Linked DNA regions of Homo sapiens: region 2 is linked to region 1. The links come from fine-mapping of genetic effects on gene expression. A gene starts in region 1. The other region holds a variant in brackets. All regions are shown on one strand. Distances are from middle to middle. Region 1 holds the start of SEC23B (SEC23 homolog B, COPII component). Region 2 overlaps DTD1 (D-aminoacyl-tRNA deacylase 1).

What was found. PIP is the estimated chance that this variant, and not a neighbour inherited with it, causes the effect.
Region 2: its variant is the best candidate, but not a certain one, in a credible set for the expression of SEC23B in CD4 T cells (BLUEPRINT, PIP 0.81).

What each region holds. Positions count from the first base shown.
Region 1 is chr20:18,505,587-18,510,961 of GRCh38, reverse strand. SEC23B (SEC23 homolog B, COPII component) reads right to left here and starts at 3,022. Exons shown (of 20, transcript NM_006363.6): 1 at 2,990-3,022; 2 at 1-140. The coding sequence starts at 126. RefSeq lists enhancers at 2,752-2,801, 3,152-3,481.
Region 2 is chr20:18,600,784-18,606,158 of GRCh38, reverse strand. All of the region lies in intron 3 of DTD1 (D-aminoacyl-tRNA deacylase 1), which reads right to left. Among named protein-coding and RNA genes, the nearest start is that of DTD1, 15 kb to the right of the region's middle. The variant A/G (reference allele first, on the strand shown) is at 2,813.

The sequences.
Region 1 (5,375 bases):
AAGGAGACAAGCCAGGGGTACAACCATTCTTGTAGCCTCCAGCCGGCTGGAAGGCCACACGTTCCAACTAAAACGCACACCATCCCGTTCTTCATTCTGCTGGATGAACTCCAGGTATGTCGCCATAGTCTAAAAGGGAACTGAAGATAAAACTTTAATTACCTTAATGGTATGTGAAATTCTGAACTAAATGTCAAAAAAAGAAGATGGGTCATGTAACACAGTGTTTCTCTTTTTTTCCCATCTCAGCTCACTGCAGCCTCCACCTCCCGGGTTCAAGCGATTCTCCTGCCACAGCCTCCCAAGTAGCTGGGATTACAAGCCTGTGCCACCAAGCCCGGCTAATTTTTTGTATTTTTAGTAGAGGCAGGGTTTCACCATGTTGGCCAGGCTGGTCTCAAACTCCTGACCTCAGGTGATCCACCCGCCTTGGCCTTCCAAAGTGCTGGGATTACAGGCGTGACCCACTGTACCCGGCCCAACTAACACAGTGTTTCTTAAATACTTGGGAAGAACCTGTTGCTGTAGAATGACAGTATTTCTTTTCCATCTGATACCCAAAAGTCAGTTAACCGCACAGTTATCATTGATCACTGCTCCTTTCTCACCTCTCCTTTCAAGCACTTAAAAATAAATCAAAGGAGTGGGAGGTTTACAATCACCTGATCATCTCCAAACTACATGTAGTTAAACACTACTACTTCAAACCTCCTCACAGATCACACGTCCTATCAGTCAAGCCAATTTCAGCCCCTTGCTCAAGGGTAAGTCTTGAACCCTGTTTCGGCATCCAACTATCTTCCTCTCTAATCTCCTTCCTTTCTTCCTCTATTAAATTTTACATTCCAAGTGATTTTTTTTTCAGTAGCGGGGGGGTGCTCATTCCCTTCCGCACTTTGTTAACTTTGGAGAAAAGAGCTGGATACTGATCTTCAAGTTTGGTTCATAATGGGAACCAGTTTTGAGCTAAATTATTTCTACTTGGTATTACCAAAATTACTATTATGCTGAGTCTCACCAGAACCTCTTTCCTCACCACGGTTGCTTATGTTCATGCCTTGACAGGCTGTGGTCAAGGCCAGGTGTGGTGGCTCACACCTATACTCGCAGCACTTTGGGAGGCTGAGATGGGCGGATCACGAGGTCAGGAGTTCAAGACCAGCCTGGCCAACACAGTGAAACTCCGTCTCTACTAAAAATACAAAAATTAGCCAGGTGTGGTGGCACGTGCCCATAGTCCCAGCTACTCAGGAGGTTGAGGCAGGAGAATCGTCTGAACTCGGGAGGCAGAGATTGCAGTGAGGCGAGACAATGCCATTGCACAGCCTGGGCGACAGAGCCAGACTCTGTTTCAAAAAAAAAATGAAGACTGTGGTCAGTAAAACTGTCCTACAGGCTAAACTCTCAAACCCAGATGATCCCAACTTCATTGAGTATTTATACATCCTGTTCATATCCTAAAATCTAGGGTAACACACAACTCAGCTATTGGGGTTCAAGGGAACAAGCCCCTCAAGAAAAGTAGTAAAAAGGCAAATTAAAGAGTCTATCAAATTAAAGTGGCCTCTCGCGCCCACTTCCTGAATATGGATAACAACTGTCTGTTATTTTGGGAAGTACCATACTGTAAATAATTTTGATTAAGGCAATAATATTGCATGGCTAGAAAAGCAAATGAATTACTCTACTACATAAAGCCCAGAACACAAGAATTCCAATGTTTGCTCCAACTGAAACTCTAAGAAATCTGTTTATTTCTGGCAACGGCAAGAACCTGAAGCACTGTGTGCACAGGAAGCACTCTGGAGCTTCATGGGAAGCAAAGGGATAACTAAAGTCGGAATGAAAGCAAGTTCTATCACAACTCTCAGCAAGTATGTCAGCAGATTTCATTAAATAACCGTCTCTCTCTCAAAACGTTCTTTATTAAAAGGCACTGGCGGCCGGGCGCGGTGGCTCACGCCTGTAATCCCAGCACTTTGGGCGACCGAGGCCGGTGGATGACCTGAGGTCAGGAATTCAAGACCAGCCTGGCCAACATGGCAAAACCCCGTCTCTACTAAAAATACAAAAATTAGCTGGGCGTGGTGGCAGGTGCCTGTAATCCCAGCTACTCGGGAGGCTGCGGCAGGGAGGACTGCTTGACCTTGGGAGGCATTGGTTGCAGTGAGCCGAGATCACGCCACTGCACTCCAGCCTGGGCGACAGAGCGAGACTCCATCTCAAAAAAAAAAAAAAAAAAAAAGAAGCTACTGCCTCCATCTAATGGTTTCCAAGCATGTACAGCCTAAGACCTGCTCCCTCCTTTTCCTACTGCCTGTTTCCCTCACCCTTCTAGGGTCTGGATTCTTAGCAGTGGACACATAATCCAAGGGGACTATAGAAGGTCCACTAATCATCTGAAGTTATGCGCATGAGGGAATATGCCGTTTTTCTAGGGAGATGGGTCCATAGCTTTTACCAAAGTATCGGGGAAGGTATCTGAAGAGGTAAATAACTGAAAGTATGAATTAGTGAATGAATGAAAGGCCTGGAAAGATAACAGGAGAATATGCCAAAAAATCTGAACCACCCTTATCGCGCCAACTCGTAACTTCTCAGGACACAGTGACCATGTGTATGTAAGAATAAGTGAGGTTTAATCCTTGAAGGGAGTCCAAGGACCTGGGTTCCAGTTCCAGCTGTCATGAAGCAAAAGTCGTTTCACTTGTCTGAGTCTTGAGTTTCTCAACTATAAAACGGGACTTGGGTCCTTCCAGGTGTGCGCACTCCGCAATTCTGGGGAAACTGGAGCCAGAAATCGGTCCCGGCCTGGTGCGGGACGACATCCGCAGGGGACTCCCGGATCATCCATTCCCCCGCTACCCTAAACTGTCAAGAAAAGGCCTCCTCCCAGAAGCCGCTCACCTCGCCCCCGGCAGAAACTCATACCCGTGCCCTCGGCCCTCCGTCACCTATGCGCCCCGCTCACCTGGCCGGAGCCGCTCACCTAGCTAGAGCCGTCCTCACCCACAGCTGCAACAAGCAGGCTCCGGCTCCCACCGCCAAGTCCAGCTCAGCTCTCAACCGATTGGCCAGCGCCCCAGCGCGTCATGCCACGGCGCTGTCCACTGGCCAATCAAAGAGCGCTTCTCCGACGGACTGGAGGAAGCGAGAGACTCAGAGAAGCTCTGCCACCATCTTGGAACAGGGCAAGACAGGTGTATGTCGCACTTCAAAACGAGAGTTCCTCGGAACACGTTTCCCCACCCCTAAACGTTTCTGTTTCAGAAAACCCCGGCGCCTGCCGCACCGTTGCCTAAGCGCAGCCAGCGCTCCTCAGAGGTTCGCCCTGATACAATATGACATCCGCTCGTCTCAGTGGGAAGTCCCGCTGATCGCCTTAGCTACCGGAAAGCGAGAACGATGACGTATGCTCGCGGAACAGGGAGCTGCACTGGTTGGAAGAAACTAAGGCTGCCGGAAGAAGGCATTAGCATGCGGAAGGGGCGGGGCGGGTGGTGAGCGCGGCGGCGCTTACGCACTTGCTGGTTTGGGAGTCGGTCTCTGTGGTTAAGTTTGAAGTACAGAGGTGTGGTGGTGCTTCACGTTACAAGCTCTCCTACCGTCGCTTGCTGTAATGTCTTGGCGCTCTCAGCGGAGGCTGGCACTAGCGCACAGTCCCTGTCATCCTTCTACATGGAGATAAATAATTGAGAACTGTAATATTCAACCATTTTAGGAGAGTAAGCTTAGAAATACATGGAACATAACTTTCTTTTAAAAAATAATTCCAACGTTTAGATTTAGGGGGTACACTGCGTATTTGTTACCTGGCTATGAGGTTTCGAATTCGAATGAGCTGGTCACCCAGATACTGAGCATAGTACCCAAGTTTTTCAGCCCCTCCCTGCCTCCCTCCCCACTCTAGTAGTCCCCAGCGTCTATTAATGTCACCTTTGTGTCCATGTGTGCCCAATGCTTAGCTCCCACTTTCAAGTGAGAACATGTATTTGGTTTTCTGCTTCTGCGTTAATTCTTTTAGGATCATGGCCTCCAGATGCATCCATGTTGCTGCAAAAGGCGCGATAGAACACAACTGTATAAAGCCACCACAACCATTTTTACACACGCTGACAAGTGGCAAACATGAACACATCATTACTGTGACTCAGAGTTGTAGTCTCTGTAGCATATAAAAATAAGCAAAACGATGTAAACATAAAATTATGCAAGAACATATCTAGGCATCCAAGAAGTATCCATTAATTAGCTCAATTTAATACTAAGTTTTAAGTTATCTACAGATCATAGAAATTATTAATAGTTTAAGGCACAAAGAAACAATTACTGTTAAATGTGAGAATGATTCAGTTTTGTTGAACAAATTCACATTTTTCAGGATCTTAAACAATGTAATGTTAATATTAGCTTATCAATAGTAAACTTTTATAAATTTAGGAAGTTCAGATTAATTATTCTCGGTAAGGAAACAAACTCAAAATGTACACATGTATAATACTTAACACTGAGAAAAGACATAGCTGGGATTTTTTTTAACCAAAACTTAATATTATTCGCCAAAGATTTGCCTTGATTATTTGAACCTGGATTCTTTCTGTACTAGCAATTTCTGTAAGAAAGATTGTTATAGGACCATCAGGTTCGATTGTCCATTGTGCGGTAACAGAAAGAATAGGAGTTGCAGCAGATAAAGAGTTCCATAATCAAGTGGCAGCCAAATGAGGAGACAAGAGCAATCCTCAAATCCACCTCCCCAAGAGATTAGAGATGGCATTTTTAAGAAGTCTGGAGGGGCAATGGGCTAAAGTGTGGGGATTTCTGATTGGTCAGGAAGTGAGAGGTGAAGTCATGGGACAGGGAGATGAAGAAACTTCATTCCAGTGTTGTTTCTTGGTGGAGGTCTTTATTTATTTATTTAAAAAAATTTTTTTTTTGTAAAGCAGGGTCTCACTTTGTTGCCCAGGCTAGTCTCAAACTCCGGGCTTCAGGCGATCCTCTCACCTTGGCCTCCCAAAGTGCTAAGATTACAGGCGTGAGCCACTGTGCCCTTCCTGGTGGGGATCCCTAGACAGTTTGGCATCAGCTGTTTTGTGGGAATTCAGGATCTGAAAAATACCTTAAGCAATTCCTGGGTACAAAGAGCTAGTGTCAGAGATTCTGTGGATAGGAGCAATCAGGGAGTAGGTGATCAGTGTGCTGCAAGGCTTTTGGTTAGTTAGCAGCTGCAGGGAAGTGAATTGAAGGGCACCAATGCACCCTGGTCAGTGCCTAACTAACCTGCCTAAAGGCTGGCTTGTAATCTTGTTAACCCTGTCAGGATGGTTTCAGCATTTTTAAGAAATTTTGCATGCATAAGTTTAATTTACTTATTT
Region 2 (5,375 bases), 95 kb before region 1:
GCTGCATAAATGTCTTCTTTTGAGAATTGTCTGTTCATGTCCTTCGCCCACTTTTTGATGGGGTTGTTTGTTTTTTTCTTGTAAATTTGTTTGAGTTCATTGTAGATTCTGGATATTAGCCCTTTGTCAGATGAGTAGGTTGCGAAAATTTTCTCCCATTTTGTAGGTTGCCTGTTCACTCTGATGGTAGTTTCTTTTGCTGTGCAGAAGCACTTTAGTTTAATTAGATCCCATTTGTCAATTTTGTCTTTTGTTGCCATTGCTTTTGGTGTTTTGGACATGAAGTCCTTGTCCATGCCTATGTCCTGAATGGTAATGCCTAGGTTTTCTTCTAGGGTTTTTATGGTTTTAGGTCTAACGTTTAAATCTTTAATCCATCTTGAATTGATTTTTGTATAAGGTGTAAGGAAGGGATCCAGTTTCAGCTTTCTACATATGGCTAGCCAGTTTTCCCAGCACCATTTATTAAATAGGGAATCCTTTCCCCATTGCTTGTTTTTCTCAGGTTTGTCAAAGATCAGATAGTTGTAGGTAGGCGGCGTTATTTCTGAGGGCTCTGTTCTGTTCCATTGATCTATATCTCTGTTTTGGTACCAGTACCATGCTGTTTTGGTTACTGTAGCCTTGTAGTATAGTTTGAAGTCAGGTAGTGTGATGCCTCCAGCTTTGTTCTTTTGGCTTAGGATTGACTTGGCGATGCGGGCTCTTTTTTGGTTCCATATGAACTTTAAAGTAGTTTTTTCCAATTCTGTGAAGAAAGTCATTGGTAGCTTGATGGGGATGGCATTGAATCTGTAAATTACCTTGGGCAGTATGGCCATTTTCACGATATTGATTCTTCCTACCCATGAGCATGGAATGTTCTTCCATTTGTTTGTATCCTCTTTTATTTCCTTGAGCAGTGGTTTGTAGTTCTCCTTGAAGAGGTCCTTCACATCCCTTGTAAGTTGGATTCCTAGGTATTTTATTCTCTTTGAAGCAATTGTGAATGGGAGTTCACTCATGATTTGGCTCTCTGTTTGTCTGTTGTTGGTGTATAAGAATGGTTGTGATTTTTGCACATTGATTTTGTATCCTGAGACTTTGCTGAAGTTGCTTATCAGCTTAAGGAGATTTTGGGCTGAGACAATGGGGTTTTCTAGATATACAATCATGTCATCTGCAAACAAGGACAATTTGACTTCCTCTTTTCCTAATTGAATACCCTTTATTTCCTTCTCCTGCCTAATTGCCCTGGCCAGAACTTCCAACACTATGTTGAATAGGAGTGGTGAGAGAGGGCATCCCTGTCTTGTGCCAGTTTTCAAAGGGAATGCTTCCAGTTTTTGCCCATTCAGTATGATATTGGCTGTGGGTTTGTCATAGATAGCTCTTATTATTTTGAAATACGTCCCATCAATACCTAATTTATTGAGAGTTTTTAGCATGAAGGGTTGTTGAATTTTGTCAAAGGCTTTTTCTGCATCTATTGAGATAATCATGTGGTTTTTGTCTTTGGCTCTGTTTATATGCTGGATTACATTTATTGATTTGCGTATATTGAACCAGCCTTGCATCCCAGGGATGAAGCCCACTTGATCATGGTGGATAAGCTTTTTGATGTGCTGCTGGATTCGGTTTGCCAGTATTTTATTGAGGATTTTTGCATCAATATTCATCAAGGATATTGGTCTAAAATTCTCTTTTTTGGTTGTGTCTCTGCCCGGCTTTGGTATCAGAATGATGCTGGCCTCATAAAATGAGTTAGGGAGGATTCCCTCTTTTTCTATTGATTGGAATAGTTTCAGAAGGAATGGTACCAGTTCCTCCTTGTACCTCTGGTAGAATTCGGCTGTGAATCCATCTGGTCCTGGACTCTTTTTGGTTGGTAAACTATTGATTATTGCCACAATTTCAGCTCCTGTTATTGGTCTATTCAGAGATTCAACTTCTTCCTGGTTTAGTCTTGGGAGAGTGTATGTGTCGAGGAATGTATCCATTTCTTCTAGATTTTCTAGTTTATTTGCGTAGAGGTGTTTGTAGTATTCTCTGATGGTAGTTTGTATTTCTGTGGGATCGGTGGTGATATCCCCTTTATCATTTTTTATTGTGTCTATTTGAGTCTTCTCTCTTTTTTTCTTTATTAGTCTTGCTAGCGGTCTATCAATTTTGTTGATCCTTTCAAAAAACCAGCTCCTGGATTCATTGATTTTTTGAAGGGTTTTTTGTGTCTCTATTTCCTTCAGTTCTGCTCTGATTTTAGTTATTTCTTGCCTTCTGCTAGCTTTTGAATGTGTTTGCTCTTGCTTTTCTAGTTCTTTTAATTGTGATGTTAGGGTGTCAATTTTGGATCTTTCCTGCTTTCTCTTGTGGGCATTTAGTGCTATAAATTTCCCTCTACACACTGCTTTGAATGCGTCCCAGAGATTCTGGTATATTGTGTCTTTGTTCTCGTTGGTTTCAAAGAACGTCTTTATTTCTGCCTTCATTTCGTTATGTACCCGGTAGTCACTCAGGAGCAGGTTGTTCAGTTTCCATGTAGTTGAGCGGCTTTGAGTGAGATTCTTAATCCTGAGTTCTAGTTTGATTGCACTGTGGTCTGAGAGATAGTTTGTTATAATTTCTGTTCTTTTACATTTGCTGAGGAGAGCTTTACTTCCAACTATGTGGTCAATTTTGGAATAGGTGTGGTGTGGTGCTGAAAAAAATGTATATTCTGTTGATTTGGGGTGGAGAGTTCTGTAGATGTCTATTAGGTCTGCTTGGTGCAGAGCTGAGTTCAATTCCTGGGTATCCTTGTTGACTTTCTGTCTCGTTGATCTGTCTAATGTTG[A/G]CAGTGGGGTGTTAAAGTCTCCCATTATTAATGTGTGGGAGTCTAAGTCTCTTTGTAGGTCACTCAGGACTTGCTTCATGAATCTTGGTGCTCCTGTATTGGGTGCATATATATTTAGGATAGTTAGCTCTTCTTGTTGAATTGATCCCTTTACCATTATGTAATGGCCTTCTTTGTCTCTTTTGATCTTTGTTGGTTTAAAGTCTGTTTTATCAGAGACTAGGATTGCAACCCCTGCCTTTTTTGTTTTCCATTTGCTTGGTAGATCTTCCTCCATCCTTTTATTTTGAGCCTATGTGTGTCTCTGCACATGAGATGGGTTTCCTGAATACAGCACACTGATGGGTCTTGACTCTTTATCCAATTTGCCAGTCTGTGTCTTTTAATTGGAGAATTTAGTCCATTTACATTTAAAGTTAATATTGTTATGTGTGAATTTGATCCTGTCATTATGATGTCAGCTGGTGATTTTGCTCATTAGTTGATGCAGTTTCTTCCTAGTCTCGATGGTCTTTACATTTTGGCATGATTTTGCAGCGGCTGGTACCAGTTGTTCCTTTCCATGTTTAGCGCTTCCTTCAGGAGCTCTTTTAGGGCAGGCCTGGTGGTGACAAAATCTCTCAGCATTTGCTTGTCTGTAAAGTATTTTATTTCTCCTTCACTTATGAAGCTTAGTTTGGCTGGATATGAAATTCTGGGTTGAAAATTCTTTTCTTTAAGAATGTTGAATATTGGCCCCCACTCTCTTCTGGCTTGTAGGGTTTCTGCCGAGAGATCCGCTGTTAGTCTGATGGGCTTCCCTTTGAGGGTAACCCGACCTTTCTCTCTGGCTGCCCTTAACATTTTTTCCTTCATTTCAACTTTGGTGAATCTGACAATTATGTGTCTTGGAGTTGCTCTTCTTGAGGAGTATCTTTGTGGCATTCTCTGTATTTCCTGAATCTGAACGTTGGCCTGCCTTGCTAGATTGGGGAAGTTCTCCTGGATAATATCCTGCAGAGTGTTTTCCAACTTGGTTCCATTCTCCCCATCACTTTCAGGTACACCAATCAGACGTAGATTTGGTCTTTTCACATAGTCCCATATTTCTTGGAGGCTTTGCTCATTTCTTTTTATTCTTTTTTCTCTAAACTTCCCTTCTCGCTTCATTTCATTCATTTCATCTTCCATTGCTGATACCCTTTCTTCTAGTTGATCGCATCGGCTCCTGAGGCTTCTGCATTCTTCACGTAGTTCTCAAGCCTTGGTTTTCAGCTCCATCAGCTCCTTTAAGCACTTCTCTGTATTGGTTATTCTAGTTATACATTCTTCTAAATTTTTTTCAAAGTTTTCAACTTCTTTGCCTTTGGTTTGAATGTCCTCCCGTAGCTCAGAGTAATTTGATCGTCTGAAGCCTTCTTCTCTCAGCTCGTCAAAGTCATTCTCCATCCAGCTTTGTTCCATTGCTGGTGAGGAACTGCGTTCCTTTGGAGGAGGAGAGGCGCTCTGCGTTTTAGAGTTTCCAGTTTTTCTGTTCTGTTTTTTCCCCATCTTTGCGGTTTTATCTACTTTTGGTCTTTGATGATGGTGATGTACAGATGGGTTTTCGGTGTGGATGTCCTTTCTGTTTGTTAGTTTTTCTTCTAACAGACAGGACCCTCAGCTGCAGGTCTGTTGGAATACCCTGCCGTGTGAGGTGTCAGTGTGCCCCTGCTGGGGGGTGCCTCCCAGTTAGGCTGCTCGGGGGTCAGGGGTCAGGGACCCACTTGAGGAGGCAGTCTGCCGGTTCTCAGATCTCCAGCTGCGTGCTGGGAGACCCACTGCTCTCTTCAAAGCTGTCAGACTGCTTTTTTTTTTTTTTTTTTTTTTGAGACAGAGTCCCGCTCTGTCATCCAAGCTGGAGTACAGTGGCGTAATCTCGGCTCACTGCAACCTGCGCCTCCCACGTTCAAGCGATACTCCTGCCTCAGCCTCCCAAGTAACTGGGATTACAGGTGCGTGCTACCACACCTGGCTAATTTTTGTATTTTTCATAGAAATTGGGTTTCCCATGTTGCCCAGGCTGGTCTCAAACTCCTGACTTCAAATGATCTGACCTCCTCGGCTTCCCAAAGCGCTGGGATTACAGGCGTGAAGCACGACGCCTGGCCGGGGAGAACATCTTCAACTTGATAAACAGTATCTTCAAAAAACCTACAGCAAACGTCATACTTAACAGTGGGAAACTAGAAGCTTTCCCACTAAGAGCAGAAATAAGCCAAGGATATCCCCACTCACCACTCTTTCCAACACCGGACTGGAAGTCCTAGCTAATGAAATAAGGCAAGAAATAAAAAGAAAAATAAAACTGTCTTTGTTTGCAGATGACATGATCATCCAAGAAGAAAATCAAAAAACTGAAACCAGGCAGTGATTACAGCAAGACTGCAGGATACAAAAGTCAATCACTTTCCTATATACCAGCAATGAACAAGTGGAATTTGAGATTAAAAACACAATACCATTTACATTAGCACCCCTCAGAATGAAACACTTAGGTATAAATCTTAAAAAAAATTAGAATATCTATATGAGAAAAATTAAA